2 linked regions of the Homo sapiens genome follow. The protein of the gene in region 2 purifies or fractionates together with the protein of the main gene of each other region. This does not show direct contact. Each region holds a gene or a part of one and is shown on either strand. Other genes may lie near its edges.

Region 1 (2,574 bases), on a different chromosome or scaffold from region 2:
GTTTTTATTGCATTTTAGGGATTATAGATTATTGAAAATTATTTAGGACACGGAAAATATCTAAAACATGAAACCTTTCTTAACAAAAGCATCATAGTCTATTTTGGTGTGACTGTTCATTACCTACAGACCCCAAATAGTTCTTCCTCTTTTGAAGGTTACACTTGTAAATCTACACTCTTGGTTCAATTTATCACTGTCCAAATAAGGTGGAGAAGCTGTTCAAACTGATCCACAGAATGCAGTATGCCTGGAAGAGGCAAAACAAGTATTTTCAAGACATAACAGGCCATTACATCTTAATATGCTGCCCCAAATTCAAATATATTGTAGACAATAACAAATACAGATGAAGACATTTTGTGTAAAGCTCAAACCTTTAGCATCTAACAAGTGCACTCTAGTTCCAGCATCTATGAAAAGATGACATCCTCCATTAACAAATACAACATGAGTAAGTGCTCCTCCTCTCCCGCTTCCATAAAGCTCTCTGGACCTGTGATTACATAATGCAGATCGTAGGAAAAGCTGCTTCCTCAGTCTCATTAGTCCAACCAGCTCCAGCTCACCTTCACTGGAAATTGTCATGATGCACATTACCAACACAGTGTTCAGGAAAAATGAGTAAACATACCTTTTATTCACACTTTACAAAAAAAAACCAATAACAAAACCCCATAAAAAGTTATGCACTGGTTCTACATCAATACCAGCTTTCCAATGTACTGATTATAAACTGGATGTGTTTGGTGTCAGCACAACTTAAACAAAAAGCAAAAAACAAAACCAAAACATCACAATGAAATCCTAGAAAAAACAAAAAACAAAAAACCCTCAAAGGAAAAAACAGGTCCAAGACCAAGATTCAACATCAAAACCTTTTGGAGAATTTTCTAAAAGGAGAAAAAAAAAAAACATAAGAATCATTTCCAAAATGACTCATTTTCTGTATAAAAATTGTTAGTAAGAGTGAGTATTTTTTTTCCTAATGCTCACATGGCGTCCTTTTGCTCCCCTGCCTGCAGTTGAAACAAAAGCAGTTTGACCAAGCTCCCTCTGCATTCATTTGACTTTTGAGAGAAGAATGAATAAATGAGAGCAGACCATGTACATGTTCACTTTGCAAAGTTAAAGCTGGTTTTCATCTCTAAATGGCACTATGGGCAAAATAGACGGTATGATGTAATTTTTATCTTGCTTGACATACTAAAATGACTTAGTCATTTTAAAAATGATCTGAAGAATTGTCTTAGGGACCTGTTTTGAAAATACATCTAATTCATACTGCTTCATAAATGGAAAATTACTTCTTCTTAAAAAAGGAATGATTAAAACAACAACAACAACAACAACAAAAAGACTAAGGAAAAGACACTGACGACAAAAAGAATTCACATGATAGTAGTATTCTGGGTGACAAGCAGCACACTGCAATGACACCGAGAAGCAGTGCTTGGATCTGGTGAGCAAAGATCCAGGGACTCACCCTATAACATGTTCCAAAATGTGATATTCAATGCTTCACAATGGGAAAAAGCCACAGCTCATACAAAAGCATTTTCATAAAATTCTCACAAATGTTAAACAGTATTTTAAAAATATAAAAGAGGATGCACAGATTTTCTCTGCATGCACAGGCAGTGCTTGGTGAGAACAAATTTAGGCAGGCACAGTGGAGATAGGACAGGAAGTGTCTCAAAAAGAGTTAAGAAGCTGGACCTAAGCAGCTGTAGGTTTTTAACTTTAAAAAGTTAAAGATTTAAAAATATCAGAATGTACATATATCAACCATTACATTCAGTCCATAAATGTCTACAGATCATCACTGTTCAGCTTATCTGTCCTAGTAGATAGTTTTCATAAAAATTCATGAATAAGTTGCCTCTGGTCTGAAAACATCCTAAGGTTGAAGCAGATTTATATGTAAAGAACCATGTTCTCAATTTAAAAAGAAAGTAGTACAAAAGGGCTAACAAAACCCTAAGAGTGCAAATCATGAGCAGAGAAAGTCTGTTGCAGCTTCTTTTACAAGCTGGCCTTTATAACACATGAAACAGGTTTAAAAAAAAATTTAGCCTCAGTTTACAATACAATCATTTCCAAATGATTTTAGTACAAAATTTCATAAATCAGGTCTTCTGTGGATCATATACAATCATAAAGGCTAAATTCAGATTCTGTACTTTACAAACAAGTCTGAAAAAGGAGGGAGTAAAGTATGGAAGAATGATCTCTGGATGTTGCTACTGGCCTCAAAAAAGCAGTGCTACAGATTTCTGTGTGAAGAGAATACGCTGTTCACACATTTTCCTATTTCCAGGCATGAAAATATTCTATTGGGTAGAAGAAATAGGAAAATCTCTTATGACAAATGAAAGACAGGTGCAAACACACCAATCCCTGTCTAGCAGTATAAAGCATATTGGGCTCAGAATTTGTCTGTTGCTAGCACCTGGCTTTCATACTATATCCTTATCAAATAATCAGATTGAAAGTCCAAATCATTCTTAAGCAAGCAAAAATCCTCAGTGGCCATACCTCACTCCCCTATGTTCAGATTTTCACAAGTTTACA
Region 2 (3,834 bases):
CTTTTTTTCTCCTAATAAAACTTTTTGACTTCATGGACTTTGAAAGGTGCTACTGATGATACATAGAGAAGATTCAGTTTGATGCAAGGTCTTTGGATTATAAGGCTAAAACTAGATAAGCAGAATCAACATTTGTTTTTTTCTTTTATTTTACATTTTTGCGTATGTTCTAAACTATGTAGTTGACAAGATTAGTAATTATACTTAATTTCAGTTTCCTCAGTGATACAGTGAATAAATAAATTAGAAAATATAAGAAAAGGGAAATACAATTTAGGTAAATTTCTCAAAAATCAGAATTTTTAAGTGGAAAGGTTGAAGGAGAACAGGATGTAATGGGACAATTTAAGCAGCTAAAAACCAGGGTAAAGATGGGAAAGAAAAGAGGCAAGCAAGTAATCAGAAAGTAGGAGCTTACAGAAAATGAAAAGTTTGGGTATAATAAAGTATATTGCTAAGACTTCAGAAGCAAAGATTCGAATGAGACTGATGTTATTGGTAACTCTTAAAGAGAGAAGGTTTTAACAGACAACTAAGGCAAAGCAGTTCATGTGTAAAAATACAGAGCAATTATGTTAGGGTAACATAGAAGAAAGGTAATCTTAGAAGTGAAATCTGGATTTCAATAAGATAGAAATGGTCAAGATGAGAGTGGATAGTGCAAAGTGTAGATCAGAATAATAAACAGAGTGTGAACATAACTCTAGAAGTGGGTGAGCTACCAAAGAAGGAAAGCGTAGAAATGTTAGCCAAAAAGATGCATCAGAGGGTGTACATGAATAAGCAGTAATAAAAGAAAGATTACTGAAGACAAGGCTAAGACCAGGCCAGGTGTGGTGCCTCACACCTGTAATTCTAGCACTTTGGGAGGCTGAGGCGGGAAGATAGTTTGCGTTCAGGAGTTCAAGACCAGCATGGACAGCATAACAAGACCCTGTCTCTACAAAAATACAAGGAAATTAGCTGGGCATAGTGGCAGACACTTGTAGTCCCAGCTACTCGTGAGGCTGAGACAGGAGGCTCACTTGAGCCTGGGAGATTGAGGCAGCAGTGAGCTATAATCATGCCACTGCACTCCAGCAAACAAAGACAACAACAAAAAACACACAAAAAAGAGAAGGATAAGACCAATGAGTAAGGCTTACCAAGCACAGGAATAAGTAGAATGCCAATGATTGTAGACTAATAAAGTGGTTTAGGATTAAATGAGATGATGGATGTAAAATTTTATTTCAAGACTAAAAACTTACTAATTTTTAATACAGAGCATTACCAAGCTGTACCTTCATTATTTCAGTTATGTGTGAGATAAAATGGGTCACGGGTAGCCTGTTTATGAGCTAGAAACACATTTGTGTGAAGTGATAAATCACTGTGATTACATTACTCAAAACTTTTTAGTCAGTTGATGCCATTGTTGAAATCGTGGAGTTTCAAATTGCCTCGGGTATTGTAAACAATGGTGGTTACACTAGAGCCGGACTGTATCATGTGCCAGTAATCCAGGACACGCAGTGGAAACTGCCCAATAAATACTTCCCTTTAAGCTCACTAGCATTTTTTCCTGACATCCCAGTGTTCCCAAGCTGGGGCTACCTTAGCAGTGACCCATGTGTATCTGTAGTCATCACAGATTTAGTTTTATTCCAAGGACTTTTAAAAACTGGTCAGTTGGCTTCAAAACATCATTAGCTATTGTTTTATTTTTAATGAAGCCATCAAATATTATATTCTTAAAATTAGGGCTTTGGATATAACTTAATTTAAAATCCAATCTTTGGAGGAGAAACATATTTTCATTTTATTAAAGTCTATCTGCAGGCTTCAGGTTACTTAGGGCAAGGCTGGCATGGGGTAACATACCACTGTTTCATCAGCATAAATGCCCAGAGGAAGAATTGCTTTAGCAGGGAAGGTTATTAACAGAAATAAAGAAAAGCAAAAAGCACGGATGAATTTTGCTAAGGCATCCACAGTTTAAAGTCACCAGTTTATTTGCTAATTTGCATGTATATATTTAAAAAGATCTACTTACTCAAAGTACATTTATAAAATTTGTCATAAACATGGCTTTCTATTTGTAATAGTTAGTGGCCAGATAGCAACCTACCATGAATTAGATTGATTAGAGAAAGAGAACACAGGTGAAAGAATAGTTTTAGAATTAGGATGCTGAGTGTAGTGGTCTTAATTCATAATTCATAATGAAGAGAATGCTATTAGATTTTTCCCAAAATTTAAAGCACTGATTTTGGCACTTACATTTTAATATTGATCACCCAGGTTTGGATCACTGAATTAAATCTCAGCTAATTTTCATGTATTCAAAATTCTCCTATCTGATTTTTTTCCAAATGGACTTGCAGTGGACTGAGAATGGCCAAAACACACTTCAGATTTGGTTTTAATGCATGTGCTTTACACGTGGCATATATGCTTTGGAATCTAACAACTTTGGGCTAGGATCTTGGCTCAGTTACTTTAGGCAAGACACTGAATCTCTCTTTATTCAATATCTGTAAAGTAGGGGTCATTGTACTTCCTCTGCAGGATTGTGAGACTTGCATATGTTATCTTAATAAATGCTGGTTGATTGAAATAGGTTGCTATTGTTTAGAAGTGTTTGGGTCTCAAATGAGCAGAATGAGATGGCACACAGCTGTCTTACTGTTGTTACTACCTTGATAGTAACTTGCTGTAGGACCTTGTGTAAATAAGCAAAACTTTGTTTTCCTTGATTGTTCTCCCGAGATAGTCTTTTAGATCCAGATACCAGGTTACCTTAAAAGATTCTCATGAAGAATAATTCAACCAACAAATGAGGCAAAATAAAATGATTTTCAAATGTAAATATGCTTTCAACCATACTACTCGTCTGTCAGCTTAGTCCATTTACCCAATAATCAATCCTTGTTGGTTTTCTTGTTCTGCTCTCTGAAATCGCCAGCTCTGTAGGCTTTTCTAGCTCTTGCTTTGATCACTTTAGAGGACAGAAGCTCTCTGTGATCCTGCCAGTTTTTTGCCTCCTCCTCTAGTCTACCCCTACCTCATTTCTTCTTATTTCGAAATGATAGATACCCTTTCTTTTGTCCAAGTTTGATTCCTCATCCTGTTTTCTGGATTTCATCACCTTTTCACCTCAATCAAAAACTATGCCCAAGTCTTTTCTATATAAATAAAAATAGCAGCAGCAACCTTCTGTTTACTTTTAATCCCTTCTATTAGCAACCTTTCTCCTCTCCTCTCCTGTCCTTAGCATTCTGCAGGTAGAATTGTTCTCTTCAGGTCTTTATTTCCCATTCATTCCTCAGCCCACTGTACTCTGATTTCCATTCCTATAGGCCGCTGAAATGGTCCTTTCCATTGTCACCATGATCTTACAGGCCAAATCTAACTCCTTCTCACTTGACCCCTTTGTAGCATTAGCCAATGGTAACAACTTTCTCCTAAAAAAATTTAAAAATATTTTTATTTAAAATAATGCCTGAGGAACCAAAGGATTTATAATGAAAAGTAGTAATCACCTGTTCTCCACCCATTCCCTACCTTTTTTTTCCTCTCCATTCTCTTCTCCTTTCTGACTCCCAACTTGAGCTGGCTATAGTTTTACTTTGACACTGTCAAGATTGATCACATTTTTATCCATTCTGTCATCAAATTAAGTTTTCCATGCTCTATTTGCAGGTTGATGCCAATTGTTGAAAATTAACATTGAGTTTTTGCATTATTGTGAATAGGGAATTTTGCACTATTATGAGTGGGGAAATATTGTTCACTGCAGAGCTGTTTCCTTCCCTGTATTTCCAGTGTCATGATCCCATGCTACTCACAAGA

What was found.
Region 1: the proteins of ZMAT3 (region 2) and CNOT6 purify together in Homo sapiens (affinity purification with western blotting, with the first as the bait; one study listed by BioGRID). This does not show direct contact.

Annotation. Positions count from the first base shown.
Region 1 is NC_000005.10:180,574,234-180,576,807, reverse strand, and holds part of CNOT6 (CCR4-NOT transcription complex subunit 6), read right to left. Parts: 3' UTR 1-2,574. UniProt on the Homo sapiens protein: Poly(A) nuclease with 3'-5' RNase activity.
Region 2 is NC_000003.12:179,061,722-179,065,555, reverse strand, and holds part of ZMAT3 (zinc finger matrin-type protein 3), read left to right. Parts: intron 1-3,834. UniProt on the Homo sapiens protein: Acts as a bona fide target gene of p53/TP53. May play a role in the TP53-dependent growth regulatory pathway. May contribute to TP53-mediated apoptosis by regulation of TP53 expression and translocation to the nucleus and nucleolus.